4 linked regions of the Homo sapiens genome follow. The protein of the gene in region 1 interacts with the protein of each later gene in a biochemical or structural test. Each region holds a gene or a part of one and is shown in the gene's direction. Other genes may lie near its edges.

Region 1 (5,292 bases):
TGCTGATAAATTTTAAGCTGTTAGATACAATGTTTGAGTTAGTAGCAATCTAATTACTTAAAGATAAATGAGTAAAATTTGAGGATATATTATTACTAAAATTTAAAAGTAATAACAGTTCTAAAAGCTGACAGTCTTTTAAGTTTATCTAGCATAAGAGGTTTAAATGAAGAACATTTACAGATAAATTTACAAATATTTCCAACTTTAAATCTGAATTTCATTTGTTTGTTCACTGATTTGACAGTTTGTTTTTTTAGCATCTGCTAAGTGCCAGGAATACAAAGATTACTTTACTGATCCAATTATTTCTTGAAAGGAGCTATGTTTTAGTGGAAGAGACGGGTTACAGATAGGCAGGCAGCTCCTCACTGTCTGATAAGTGTCATCATAGGGGTTTACAAGGAGGATCATATGGAATCTTGTAAGAAGGGCATCTGTGGCAAAGTATGTGTTCCAGAATGATCTCAACAGGATCTGCACACTTTCTTAAAATGTAGTGTTGATACTCCTCCCATGGAGAGTTGTGCTCTGTGTCATTGAATCTGGGTGGGCCGGTGACTACAGCTTAATTGGTGCCATGTGACTTAAGAGGTTGGATCATAAAAGGTGATGCAGCTTCTGCCTGGTTATTTTGGGGATACTTGCCCTTAGAACCCAGTCACCATTGTGTGAAGAGGTCAAGACACCAGTGATCCAGCTGATAGCCCCAACTGAAGCCCTCGCCACCAGATGTGAGTGAGAAGCCTTTAAGATGACTCCAGCCCCAACCACCATCTGCCTGTAACTGCATGAGGAATCCCAAGTGAGAACCACAGCTGACCCCAGTTAACCCCAGAACCAGGAGAGATGATAAATTATTGTTGTTGTTATTTTTTTATTTTTTATTTTATTTATTTATTTATTTATTTTTGAGATGGAGTTTTGCTGTTGTCACTCAGGCTAGAGTGCAATGGCACCATCTTGGCTCACTTCAACCTCTACCTCCCGGGTTCAAGCGATTCTTCTGCCTCAGCCTCCTGAGTAGTTGGGATTACTGGCACCCACCACCATGCCTGACTAATTTTTTTGTATTTTTTAGTAGAGATGGAGTTTCACCATGTTGGTCAGGCTGGTCTTGAACTCCTGACCTCAGGTGATCCACCCGCCTCAGCCTCACAAAGTGCTGGGATTACAGGCGTGAGCCACCGTGCCTGGCCAACTGTTGTTGTTTTAAGCCTCAGAATTATTTGGATAGGCCTGGCGTGGTGGCTAACACTTGTAATCCCAGCACTTTGGGAGGCCAAGGTGGGCAGATCACTTGAGGCCAGGAGTTTGAGACCAGCCTGGCCAACATGGCAAGACCCCGTGTCTACTAAAAAATACAAAACTTAGCTGGGCCTTGTGGTGCATGCCTGTAATCTCAGCTGCTGGGGAGGCTGGGGCACGAGAATCACTTGAACCTGGGAGGCAGAGGTTGCAATGAGCCAAGATTGTACCACCGCACTCCAGCCTGGGGGAACACAGTGAGACTCTGTCTCAAAAAAAAAAAAAAAAATTGTTTGGATGACTTATTATGCAACAATAGATGACTGGAACAGGGGCTAATACATACTTACATTCTCTTGGGTCCTCTACTTTCCTTCTTGTGAAATGATAGGATAGAACTAAATATCTCTATGGTTTGTTCTTTTAGTTCTGTAAAAGGAGCCAGAATTCATTTAACGTGCCCCCCTTTCAGTGGTGTTTCCTGTGAGTTGGTAGTTAGATCTTGAGGCCTATCAAACATATTTTATAGGTGGTCTGTGTGCTTCCATCAGGAACAACATATTATCTGCTGTTTTTCTTTTTGTGATATTAACAGTTATTGATGATCATTGCCTAAATCCATTAATTCATTAAGGGACTGCAAAATGGTGATATTCCAATTCTGTCAGTCTTTCTCAATATTTCAGTTAGACTACTTTCATAAAAAGAAGCTCCCCCTCACCTCTGGTAACCTTGACATATGGTTTAGACAGGAAAGGCAGGATAAATGTCTGATTTTTCTTCATTTAACAGTTTTCACAAAAGCAAGTTGGTACCATTATTCAAGGACTTCAGAATGGTAGGTTGGGAGGGGCCTTAATTCTCTCTAGTTTGGTGCCCACATATTATAGACGAGGGGTTGAGATTGAAACTCAAAAAAAAATAACAAAATTTATTGTTAGTAAATGCATTGGCAGAAAACATTGAGTTTTGAATGTATAAAATGGCAGTATAGTAACTGCTTTTCAAAAACCAGATTCCCTTTCCCTGAAGTCAAATTTGGCTTAATTAAAAGGATCAATTTCAATTCACAATTTGATCTCATTTTTCTGTCCCATACATATGTGCCACTCCTTCTATCCATAAATCCCCACCTCTAACAAGCAAGCCTGATTTATTTTTTTCCTAACTGACCTCCAGATACACCTTGTGTGTCCATCTTTGCTTTTTAGCATTCGTGATTCCTTTTTTGGTGCATCACAAAGATTGCTTTGTATTACTAGGCTAGTGCATTCATCTTCTATTGCTGCCGTGACAAATTACCACAAACTTAGTGGTTTAAAACAATACAGATTTATCATCTTGCAATAATGTAAGCCAGAAATCTAAAATGGGTCTTCTTGTATGAAAATCAAGGTGTCCACAGGGCTACATTCCTTTTGGAGGCTCCAGGGAAGAATCCCATTCCTTGGCCAGCTTTCAGAGGCTACCTGCATTCTTTGGCTTGTGGTCCTGTCCTCCATCATCAAAGCCAGCAGCATAGCATCTTCCAGTCTCTCTCATGCTGACCCTGACACTTTTGCCTTCCTCCTATAAAGACCTTTATCTTTACCTGACGATCATTCGGATAATCCAGGACAGTCTTCCAATCTTTTAAGTTAATTACAACTGCAAAGTCCTTCTTGCTGTGTAAGGTAGCATATTCAGAGATTTCAGGGATTGAAACATAGACATCTTTGGGGGGCAATTATGCTGCCTACCTCAGTGGGGGGTTTTTTGGTAAAATATGAGTTTTTTTTCTTTTTGTGATAGTAATAATATACGTTCATTGTAGACAATTTAGAAAATACAATTAAGCAAAAAAGAAAAATTCCATATACCCAAAGACAACATTTTGTTATATATCCTCCCTTTTCCTACATTTATATACAATAATCTTTTGTCAAAAATAATTTAAGTTGTATATTCATTTTATATATAGTATAAACACAGCAGTAAACAAACTTTTGCATATATATTTTCATAGCCCTTGGTGCCTTATGTAGTAGCCCTTTAGTACACATGTTGTTTGATGTTAAGTATATACTGAGAAATTGATGGCTTTTCTCACATAATTTAACTTTACATTGAGGAACTGTGATAAACTGATCTCTTTTTAAAATATTTTATTTGGTTCTTAAATATATCTCTTAATAAAAATTTTCTCATATTTCTACCCAGGCCATTTCTTATTTAACAATGCAAATCAATCATATAATTCATTCCCTTTTAGCCTTTGAAATGGGACAGATCATATTAATGACTCCCGTGTACTTATGGAGAAAGACCTTTCCTTGGGTTTAGGATGTCCACTGCAAAGGTGCGATGTCCGGGAAGCCAGCCATCTCTGAGTCACTTCACAGAAGTGTTCAGAAACACTAGAGGAAAACAAATGTCTGGGAGAATGAGAAGTGGATATAATATTTATTTCATAGAATGGGAAAATTTTCTACTAAACATTTAAAAATATTGGGTATACTACACTTGCTTTCAGAATTTATTTTCATATATTTTTATGATGAACCATCTCCTCTTTTTAGAGGTTTGTTAGACTTGATAATTTTAGATAATACTCCCTATAACACTCAGCTACAGGAATGTATTCATTAGGATTTGGAGAAAAAAGTCATTTGGCACATCATCCAATGGAGTTTTAGTTTAAAGTAACAAATTTAAAATGTTTTTACTATTTCTGTGCCCTGAGGATAACAAACTATAGACAACAGAACTAATCATTAGGATAGTCCAAAAGTGGTTTCATTTTACATTGACACAGCTATACTGTGTCCATCATTCCTTTATTTTCTTTTAATCACTACAGCTATAAGTAATTTGATATAGTACTTTTGTTTAATCTCTTATATAGGAGAAATTAAACAGGCATCTTGTTGTGTTTTTTTTTTTCCAAGTGGACTTCAAGTTGAAAGTTTATTTTGGTCTGCAAGTTCTTACTTTTAAGAAAAGTTTGTCCAAAGTGCTGTAATAGTTAACCATCATAATGACTTGGTGCCCATGCTTGCAAAACTCCCATCTGAGTTGTATCTCTTGAGCATCTAAACCTAGTTCAAGCCTTCACAGTTGGCCTAAGAAAGTACTCCTGCTTACTCTGCACTTAACCCCATTCTCATTCAATAGAGTATCAAGGAGAGGAAGGAAAAAAAGGAGGAATAGCAGTACCTACAGTGGCAACATTTTCATCTGTTTGCCAACCCTACAGATGGCCAAGTGATGCCTAATAATGGGTTGCCTTAAAGGAAAGGAACTCTGAACTTAGGGAACACCAATCTTTTATAAAGAACAGTTATTAATAATAAGATATTGAGCACAGCATTGACCTTATTATACCATTCAGTAAACAAGCTTGACCTTTGCTCAGGATGGAAACATATCTCTGTTGTCCAAGGCTGTTCATTACACGAACGTCTTTGAAAAGACAGTCTAGAACAAAGACTCTCAATGCCTCGGCTTGTAAGATGTACAGAAACATGAGACTCATGAAGAATTATCTACCAACACGATTCTACATATACAGGTTGAGTACTCCTTCTTCAAAATACCTGGGACCAGAAGTGCTTCCAATTTTTTTTTTTTTAATATTGCATTATACTTACCTGTTGAGCATCCCAAATCTGACAATCCTAAATCCAAAATGCTCCAATGAGCATTTCCTTTGAGGGTCACGTTGGTGCTCAAAAAGTTTTGGATTTTGGAGGATTTTGGATTTTCAATTTTTGGATTTGGGATACTTAGCCTGTATACATGTTTATTATCCATCTTCCCCAAAGAATATTAAGCTCCCTGAGAGTAGAGATTTTGTCTTTGTTCAATTCTTTGTCTCTAGTGCTTAGAAGAGTGCCTGGCACACATTAAGTGCTCAGTAAATATTTCTTAAATGAATGGATGAATATGAATTATTTCATCAATTTCCTAATAATATATTTAGGAATGATGAGAAAAATAACTTTGGTATGTCTATATTTCTATTAATATAGCTCACTGGTATTTTGATAGTATCTTTAATTATGT
Region 2 (3,500 bases), on another chromosome or scaffold:
TACCGCACCCTGGTAACTGCCAGAGTTTCCGACCCTGCATGGGAAGGAGGCACTGGTTTGGGGAATGGGGGACTCACCCTTGGCCCAGGCGCTGTTGGCGGCCTTTCTGCCCAGCCCAGTGAGGAGCAGAGCACGAATCAGGGTGGCCTGAGTCCTGCAGAGGGGACCCCTGGGCGGTGTGGCAGCCCTCCTGGTCCTGACGTGCTCTACCAATCGAGCCACACTCCCGCCAAGGCGACCCGCCAGCTGTGGGCCCCGAGGAGGAGGGAGCCCGGGCGGAAACAGCGTCACCCATAGCTTCCAGGCAGGGCACTGACTCGCCTCGCCCAGGTGGGGTCTGAGTCACAGTCCTGCCCTCCACACTCCCTCCCTGGGTGGGCTCCGCACCTCTCCATCTGCCGGGAAGATCTGTGGGACAAGATCCCCCCCCGCCCTCTGGCCTCTCCCTCTGGATGCCCCATGCTCTTTCTGGGCTGCTTTGGGGCTCTGGCGGCTGGGGGGAGCGGGGGGCTGACCCAAGGCGGGTTACACAGAGAGGAAGGTGACGGGGATAGGCCCTCGGCAGGACAGGCCTACTCCAGGATCGGACCTACCTGAGCCCTGTGGGGTGGCTGTCCATGTTGGCCCTGGTCCATCAGGAGGAGGAAAGAAGGGAGACTTTGGCCCAGGCTTCTAGGACGTGTGACCGAGAGCTCCTGGGCCTGTGTCCCCCCAGGTGGTGGAATTGGGCATCCTGGACCAGCTCTCCACTGAGGAGCGGAAAAGGCAGGAGGTAAAAGGGCCCTGGGCGGGAGGGCTGTCCCCCATGGCCTGGGCCATGCAACACCCGGGGAGGGGCAGCAGCCACGGTGGCACCACCCAGCCATCCCTCTGCGGCCACCTCCAGTGCCAGGCCCTGTCACGCTGACCAGCGCCTCACACAGCCCCGGGCTGTGCTTCCACCTGCGCCAGGCCCTGACGGAGCCCCTTCACGTCACCGGGTGAATCCTCGGAGTCCAGGGGCTGCCATCACCCCCTTCTCTGACAAGGACGGGGGTCGTTGCCCAGCTTCAGCCGGCTCATAAGGCACCCAGCCAGGGGCATCCAGGGACGTCGGGCTGGCATCTCCAAGCTGGCCATTCTGACAGCCCCATCCAGGGGTGTGTCTGGGGTTCCTGTCCCCACCTGCCCCTGCCACCCGGGTCACGTCCTCCTGTTCCAAGCATTGGTCACCGAGGCACGCCCGTGTCCAGCGTCACTGTGGGGCTCACCTAGGCCCCTCTCCACAGGCCATGTTCGAGATCCTCACGTCGGAGTTCTCCTACCAGCACAGCCTGAGCATCCTGGTGGAGGAGTTCCTGCAGTCCAAGGAGCTGCGGGCGACCGTGACCCAGATGGAGCACCACCACCTCTTCTCCAACATCCTGGATGTCCTGGGTGCCAGTCAGAGGTGAGGCCACGCCACAGCCTTCCACACAGGGTCCTCTGCCAGGAAGGTGCCTCCCCCCGTGGGCACCGCACTGTCATCAGCAGGCCCCTGGGAGCCTGCGCTGCACCTTGATGTGGATGGTTTAGAGCAGCTGCTGGCTCCCGCGGAGTGTGATGACCTCTGAGGGTCCTTGAGGCCACCAAGAGCTGGCCCCAGGGCCGGGCTAAGCACTGGGGCTGTGGCATCCTGGTCGTTCTTAAGACGTGGAGCACTTCCCAGGGGTACAACCCTGCCCCACTGCCAAGCACCACCCCACCAGGACGTCCAGGCACAGAGGGCTGCATGATCCAGGCAGTGGTGGCCACAAGCTGCTCACCTGTAGGCAGGAAGCCTCGAGTTGCAGCTCTGGGTCATGTTCCACCCAAAGGTGTCTGGTGGCTGGACCTGAGCTCTGGTTGCAGGGCCTGGAGGTAGAGAGGCTGGACATGCAGCTGCAGCCATGCACGGGGGTATGTGCGTGGGGTGGGGTGGGGTGTGTGTGCGTGGGTGTGTGTGTGGGGTGGGGTGTCTGTGCATGGCTGTGTGTGCATGGTCAGTGGTGTGTGTGAGTGGGCTGGCCCCGAGGCCTGGAGGGTGGCTCGGGAGCATCCAGCACCCTGGTGTGTATGCATGGGTGTGTGGGGGCAGGGGTGTGTATGCATGGGCAAGGGTGTGTATGCATGGGCAGGGGTGTCTGCACGGGTGTGTCTGCACGGGTGTGTGTGGACAGGGTTGTGTGTGCGTGGGCAGGTATGTGTGTGTGTAGGTGTGCATGGGTTTGTGTGCCTGGGCAGCAGTGTGTGTGCATGGGTGTGGGGCAGGGGTGTGTATGCATGGTTGTGTGTGCGCGGGTGTGTGCATGGATGTGTGTGCATGGACGGGTGTGTGCACAGGCAGGGATGTGTGTGCGTGGGCAGGGGTGTGTATGCGTGGTCAGGGTTATGTGTGAGTGGGTAGGGGTGTGTGTGAGTGGCTGTGTTTTCGGTCAGGTGTGTGTGAGTGGGTGTGTGTGCGTGGGCAGGGATGTCTGTGTATCTGCGTGGTCAGGGATGTATGTGAGTAGGTGTGTGTGCGTGGGCAAGGGTGTCTGTGCATGGCTGTGTGTGCGTGGTCAGGGGTGTGTGTGAGTGGGCTGGCCCCAAGGCCCGGAGGGTGGCTCGGGAGCATCCGGCACCCTGGTGTGTATGCATGGGTGTATGTGCATGGATGTGTGTGTGGGCAGGGGTGTGTGTGCGTGGACAGGTGTGTGTGCGTGGGCAGGGGTGTATGTGCGTGGGTGTGTGTGCCTGGCCAGGGGTATGTGTGTGGGCAGGGGTGTGTGTGCATGGGCAGGGGTGTGCGTGGGTGTGTGTGCCTGGCCAGGGGTGTGTGTGCGTGGGCAGGGGTGTGCGTGGGTGTGTGTACCTGGCCAGGGGTGTGTGTGCGTGGGCAGGGATGTGTGTGTGCATGGACAGGTATGTGTGCATGGGCAGGGGTGTGTGTGCGTGGGTGTGTGTGCCTGGGCAGGGGTGTGTGTGCGTGGGTGTGTGTGCCTGGGCAGGGGTATGTGTGGTCTCGACCCTGTGCTGCTCCCTATATGCAGGAGGACCCCGGAGCATCGAGTCTCCTGAGCCTCAGCCTCAATGCTAACCTGAGGGGCGGTGCCTCTGGTCCCCTCGTGGGCTTGGGTGGCGCTGGGAGATGATTAGGGGCCTGTAGTGCCTGGCACAGGGCTGCCCCAACAGTGGTGGTTGCTGGCGCATTCTTATATCAGCCCCGCCCCTGGCGAGTCCCACCCATCTGCTGCCTGTGGGGTGCCCTTGCGGAACTTTGGGGCCCTGAGGGTGGGCAGGGAGCCGCCTTGTCCCTGGAGACAGGGGCTTCCTGTAGAGCTCCAGGGACCAGCTATGGGAAACTCCCAACCTCTGACTCAGCATGGGATGGGGCTGGGGGAGGGGGAGGGGTCTGGGATAGCGGCTGCCCCTCCCCCAGCTCTGCCCCCAGCCAGGCAGGCTTTGTGTTCTCTGAGCTCTGTGTCCTCCGGTCCCCTCTGCCTCAGGCAGCTGCATGTTTG
Region 3 (3,500 bases), on another chromosome or scaffold:
AATCTTATGTAATGTTTGCAAATCATTTGCTTTAGTTTCCTTTTGTTCAATAAGCAAAACGATTTTAGAAACCCATACTTTATTTTTTTTGTTCCAGCTCTGTTCAGATTAAGGTTATACTTAAAATAATCCAAACTTTAAAATAGAAATTAGATGGGGATGATTTAATGGAGAATAATTTTCAAAGTGTTTGTTTGGGTAGCTAATTCACCCTTTGCAATTACAGTACAATATTTACACATAAAAAAGTAATTTACCCACAACTTTTTGGAACATACTTAGGTACACCAAGCCACATTTTTTTGTGGTCAGTCTTGTGACTTGTTAGAAAAAGCAGCTGGCTGCCTGTGTAGAGCCAGACTTACACTTGGATTGTAGTTTAATTTTTGTCTTTTTACCTTTTTTTTTATTTTTTTGAGACAGAGTTTCACTTTTCACCCAGGCTGGAATACAGTAGTGTGACCTCGGCTCACTGCAACCTCCACCTCCTGGGTTCAAGCGATTCTCCTGCCTCAGCCTCCTGAGTAGCTGGGAGTACAGGCACCCGCCACAATGCCCAGCTAATTTTTGTATTTTTAGTAGAGACAGGGTTTCACCATGTTGGCCAGGCTGGTCTTGAACTCCCTACCTCAGGTGATCCACCTACCTCGGCCTCCCAAAGTACTGGGATTACAGGTGTGCGCCACTGTGTAATGTTTTTACATTAAAAACAAATTCCTGAATTAATGGGCATATTTGCTTAATATATCCATGGTTGCTTTGACTTCTGACTGTTGAGCTTTTCAATTATCATTTAACTTTTGGTTAAATTCACTTTTGAAGTTAGTTTTTTGGGTTTGTTTTTTGTTTTTTGTTTTTAGATGGAGTCTTGCTCTGTCACCCAAGCTGAAGTGCAGTGGTGTGATCTCGGCTCACTGCAACCTCTGCCTCCCAGGTTCAAGTGATTCTCCTGCCTCAGCCTCCCAAGTAGCTGGGATTACAGGCGCACACCACCACGCCTGGCTAATTTTTGTATTTTTAGTAGAGACAGGTTTTTGCCATGTTAGCCAGGCTGGTGTTGGACTCCTGACCTCAAATAATCCTCCTGCCTTGGCCTCCCAAAGTGCTGGGATTACAGGTGTGATCCATGGTGCCTGGCCTGTTTTTAATTATTTTTTTTATTTTTTGAGACAGTGTCTTACTCTGTTGCCCAGGCTGGAGTCCAGTGGTGCAATTATGGCTCACTGCAGACTCAACCTCCCAGGATCAAGTGATCCTCCCAACTCAGCCTCCCAAAGAACTTGGACCACAGGCGCACGCCACCATGCCCAGCTAATTTTTGTATTTTTTGTAGAGATAGGTTTTGACCATGTTGTCCAGCTAGTCTCGAATTCCTGGGCTCAAGCTATCTGCCCGCCTCAGCCTTCCAAAGTGCTGGGATTATGGGTGTGAGCCACTGCGCCCAGCCAAGTGTAGTCTTACATGTTAGTGTTTACAGAGGAACTGTACGACCTTTGTGCAGATAAATATTTCATAACAAGAGGTTCGTTATTGGTCAGGTTGCTGTTCTCATCTCCTTAGCAAGGGTGGGGATAATGGTAAAGAAAACTTGTGTGTTTGATTTTCTTTTCTCAGTATCTTCTCTCTTCTGAATTTGAATGTTTTAAGGAATTAAATCAAAGGTGGATGAGCTAAAAGCAGCCTATGACCGGGAGGAGTCTACAAACTTGGAAGACTATGAGCCTAACACTGTAGCCAGTTTGCTGAAGCAGTATTTGCGAGACCTTCCAGAGAATTTGCTTACCAAAGAGCTTATGCCCAGATTTGAAGAGGCTTGTGGGAGGACCACGGAGACTGAGAAAGTGCAGGAATTCCAGCGTTTACTCAAAGAACTGCCAGAATGTAACTATCTTCTGATTTCTTGGCTCATTGTGCACATGGACCATGTCATTGCAAAGGAACTGGAAACAAAAATGAATATACAGAACATTTCTATAGTGCTCAGCCCAACTGTGCAGGTACATGGTCTTCTCTACACATATACCCTCTGGTACTGACATTGGGGAACTGGGGTAATTTTCTATTGCTGAGTCACATGTAAAGCAGTGAACTTGAGGAGATAGGTAATGGATTAGCTTGAATACGGGTCTTTTCCTTTCATAATTTGGACAGTGTCAATGTATAAGATAACATACTTGCCCTTTAGCTTGTAGTGATGTAATTTGAATGCGGTACAGTCTTTGATGTGGGTTTATAAACAAGACCTGATGACAAGGATCCTTCATTAGGGGAGGAGGAGCCCATGGCATCTACAGTTATAGAGTTCGTGTGTAGAATTTTAGAGATCCCAGTTATTTAATCAATAGCATTATTGCTTCGTTAGATCACAGACACACATCAAACTCAGGCACAAAGGGACCTGTCATTAATTGTTTGGTCAAAGATTTAGCCTGAGGATTTCATTCATAAGGATGGATCCTAGAGAGACATGTTATAGGCTCTGAATCTGAAAAGGAACTTCAGGGAATTGGGTAGTGTGTTAATTGGTATCTTTTTACGACATACATACTTGGCTTTCCTTTATTGCTGCTCAGTTGGTGCTGTCATAGAGTATATGTTTTCTTTTAATTGCAGTTAATGATATTTTACTCAGGCCAATAAAAAGGGAGATGATAGGTTATATTTATTATCTTAAGCCCTCTTTTTGGCCAGTATTCTGAGTCACCATAAATCACTGTCACTGTTATTAGAGAGTGTTTTCATTTACTAAAGAGCGTTTCAGTCAGGCGCGGTGGCTCACACCTTTAATGCGAGCACTTTAGGAGGCTGTGGCAGGAGGATAGCGAGAGGCCAGGAGTTCAGCCTAGGCAACATAGCAAGACCCTGTCTCTACATAAAAATTAAAAATTAGCTGGGTGTGGTAGCATGTATGTGTAGTCCCAGTTACTTCGGAGGCTGAGGTAGGAGGATTGCTTGAGCCCAGCAGTGAGCTATGATCATGCCACTGTACTCCTCTCTGGGTGACAGAGCAAGATTTTATCTCTAAAAAATAAAGATTCTTCTGTTACTCATTGATTACGCTTTGAAAGCAAAATGTTTCTCAGATTTTAGTTTGATCATTAGGATTTCAGGATCTGGTAAATATTACATTGATACTTAATATTACTATAATATAATAGAGATGGTTGTATCATAGAAGAGTCAAGTGTGTTGTAAGAGTAAGTTTTAGGTAGGAAATAATTTCTTGTAGTAGCTTTTCAGCCAACCTAATGCCCTGGCCTCCTAGCATATGAACATCCATACTTAAATGCTGGCTGTGTCCAGGTATTTGTTTCTGGAGTGAGGGCTTTCAACCTCAACCCAGCTTTACTACTGTGGTGCTCCCACTTCCCTCATGGTCCTCATTCATTCCATTGCGTCTGTTAAAATATGTCAAAGTAAGTTGAAAATAAAGAATATAAGATGTTTTAGCCGGGCATGGTGGCTCACGCCTGTAATCGCAGCACTTTGGGAGGCTGAGG
Region 4 (2,899 bases), on another chromosome or scaffold:
ATGCTGCCTTCCCTTTTGAGATAGTGTAGAAAAACACTAGATAGTGTGAGAGGTTCCTTTCTGTCCACTGAAACAAGGCTAAGGATACTACCAACTACTATCACCATGACCATTGTACTGACAACAATTGAATGCAGTCTCCCTGCAGGGCAGATTATGCCAGGCACTTTACATTTGTTGATCCCATTTGACATTCACACCAAAGCTCTGAGTTCCATTTTACAGCTGAAGAAATTGAAGCTTAGAGAAATTAAGAAGCTTGTTTAAGTTTACACAGCTAGTAAGAGTTTTAAAAATCTCTGTGCAGAAGTGTTGGCTGGGTGCTCTCCCCACCACTACCCTTGTAAACTTCCAGGAAGATTGGTTGAAAGTCTGAATAAAAGCTGTCCTTTCCTACCAATTTCCTCCCCCTCCTCACTCTCACAAGAAAACCAAAAGTTTCTCTTCAGAGTTGTTGACTCATAGTACAGTAAAGGGTGGAGGTGATATGGCATTCTGAAAGTAGGGAGGGACTAAGTCAGTCATCATACTAAACAAAAATCCCAGTACCCTTTCCTTATTTAGCTACCAGAATGATGACAGACAGACTCAAACCCTGTCAAGACAGGACCCTGGAGGATCCTCCTATGGGGAAACTGCATAATCTGAAAAAAAGGCTGACAGATACAAATAGTTGAGGATCCTTCAACACAAAAGCTGCGTGTCTGCCCTATTACTCACCTGACGATGAAGCCCACAATGCAACAAATCCCTTCCACTCACAGCATTTGGTCAACCTGTCAGAGCCTCATTCTTAATTATGAAAAGTAGTCAATGAACACAATACATTTGAGGGAAAGGCCGTAACATGAAAGGCACCAACAAATAAATGTGAGAGTAGATAGAGACCTTTTGAGTATAAAAGATCCTCCAAAATAAGAGATTAAACCAAGATAGAGGAAAACACAGTAGCTGGGAAACAAGGAATCCAACGCAGGAGAAAGTGAAGAGAATTCCCAGGATGTTGGTGTGTAGCAGGCTTAGAAAGCAAGTCATTCATGTTGGAGCAGGACTCTTAAAGGACTCTAGGAGAGATGTCTCCCAGAAAAAGAAGAAATTAATTGATTCATACACATTGAGAGGGATTTAGATTTCTCTTGCAGAGATTGAGATAAACTAGTCGTAAATACATAGAAAAATAAGCAAGTAAAAACGCAATACAGTTTTTAAGTGCTAGAGGAAAAGAAACTTTTGTATTAGAGAGGAAATATAACCACAGTACACTACATGGCTCAGCTGTGAATAATATTTACATAGAGGATAATGTGAATATAATAGTCTCCCATTATCTGTGGTTTTGCTTTCTGCAGTTCAGTTACAGCCAGCCAGTCTGAAAATATTAAATGGAAAATTCCAGAAATAATTCTTAAGTTTTAAAACATGTGCTGTTTTGAGTAGCATGTTGAAATCTCGCACTATCACCCTCCACCCATGTTCTGGGCAGGGCAAAGTGGGATGGTGTGAGATTTCTCCAGTGGATCCACAATGTATATGCTACCCACCCATGAGTCACTTAGTCATCATCCAGTTGCTCAGATCAACTGTTGTGGTATAACAGTGCTTGTGTTAAAGTCACTCTTATTTTACTTACTAATGTCCCCAAAGCATAAGAGTAGTGATGCTGGCAAATAAGATACACCAAAGAGAAGCTGTAAAGTGCTTCCTCTAACAGAAAATGTGAAAGTTCTTGACTTAATAAGGAAAGAAAAAAAACACATGCTGAAGTTGCTAAGATCTACAGTAAGAACAAATCCATCTGTAAAATTGTGAAGAAGGCAAAAGAAATTTGTGCTAGTTTTGCTGTTGCACCACAAGCTGCAAAAATTATTTATTACACCCCACGGTGTGTGATAAACACTTAGTTAAGATGAAAAGGTATTAAATTTGTGGGTGGAAGACATGAACAGAAATGTGTTCCAATTGACAGCAATCGGGTTTGGTACTATTTGGGTTTGGTGCTATTCGTATTCAGGGTCTTGGAATGCAACTCCCACAGATAAGGGGGTGCTGCTGGAGTGAAATACTGTGATATAACCTTTTTTTCAGGAAATGAAGGGAGAAGATGTGTACGTGTGTGGGAGAGGTATAAGAGACCTAGGTTGCCATATTCTATCACAGAAAATGCATAATAACTAAATCTGGAAAATGATGAATAGCTGTACAACCATATTATTTAGCAATAGGAGGTAAATACAGGTAGAAGCAGAAGAAAGAATGGGCAGGGGTTACCTCTATGGAGAAGCTGGGGTGGGAGGATAGGGTGGGGACTTATTTTACGAACTGTGTAATTGCCTAACTTGTGAATATGTATTTCTGAAGTAAAATAAAAATTAAGTTAAAATTAAATTTTAAAATTCAAACTAATTCTGAGTTGTTTTTTAAAACAAAAACAAAAAAAGACAAGAAAGCCCATCAGAAATGGAAACTGAACATTGACAGAAGAAAGGAAAGCAGGAAAGGACCAGAGTTGTATTTCAGTTCTTGAGAGAAGCCCATCTAGTCCTGCCATGGGAGGCAAGTCCTTTCTTGGGGTGAGGAAAGTCACTTTCTGGGGTTAGAGAGATTTTGATATGTTACTTGGGATATTTTTAGTTGCAAGTAACAGAAAACCCTACCCCAAGTGGCTTACATAATAAAGGGATTTGATTATCTCATATAACTGAAATATACCGAGGGAAGTTGGACTTCAGGCCTTGTTCAACCAGGACATCTGTGGGCTTTCCTCCCCAGATGTTGGCTCTGCCACATGGGTGAATCCTCTCATGGAAACAAGCTGACTGCAAGCAGCCTGAGACTACACACTTCCTTATTTGTTTCTAAAGCAAACTAATGAAGAATGGATTACTCTGAATGAGGATGA

Evidence for each region. The genes of interacting proteins can lie anywhere in the genome.
Region 2: the proteins of INTU (region 1) and ARHGEF16 interact in a test that uses a peptide from one of them, tested with the Homo sapiens proteins (one large-scale study listed by IntAct).
Region 3: the proteins of INTU (region 1) and RALBP1 interact in a test that uses a peptide from one of them, tested with the Homo sapiens proteins (one large-scale study listed by IntAct).
Region 4: the proteins of INTU (region 1) and CYSLTR2 interact in a test that uses a peptide from one of them, tested with the Homo sapiens proteins (one large-scale study listed by IntAct).

The regions. Positions count from the first base shown.
Region 1 is NC_000004.12:127,644,665-127,649,956, forward strand, and holds part of INTU (protein inturned), read left to right. Parts: intron 1-5,292. UniProt on the Homo sapiens protein: Plays a key role in ciliogenesis and embryonic development.
Region 2 is NC_000001.11:3,468,165-3,471,664, forward strand, and holds part of ARHGEF16 (rho guanine nucleotide exchange factor 16), read left to right. Parts: intron 1-715; coding exon 716-772; intron 773-1,268; coding exon 1,269-1,429; intron 1,430-1,835; coding exon of another isoform or gene 1,836-1,917; intron 1,918-3,500. UniProt on the Homo sapiens protein: Guanyl-nucleotide exchange factor of the RHOG GTPase stimulating the exchange of RHOG-associated GDP for GTP. May play a role in chemotactic cell migration by mediating the activation of RAC1 by EPHA2.
Region 3 is NC_000018.10:9,520,513-9,524,012, forward strand, and holds part of RALBP1 (ralA-binding protein 1), read left to right. Parts: intron 1-1,647; coding exon 1,648-1,997; intron 1,998-3,500. UniProt on the Homo sapiens protein: Multifunctional protein that functions as a downstream effector of RALA and RALB. As a GTPase-activating protein/GAP can inactivate CDC42 and RAC1 by stimulating their GTPase activity.
Region 4 is NC_000013.11:48,708,828-48,711,726, forward strand, and holds the end of CYSLTR2 (cysteinyl leukotriene receptor 2), read left to right. Parts: 3' UTR 1-2,399; downstream 2,400-2,899. UniProt on the Homo sapiens protein: Receptor for cysteinyl leukotrienes. The response is mediated via a G-protein that activates a phosphatidylinositol-calcium second messenger system.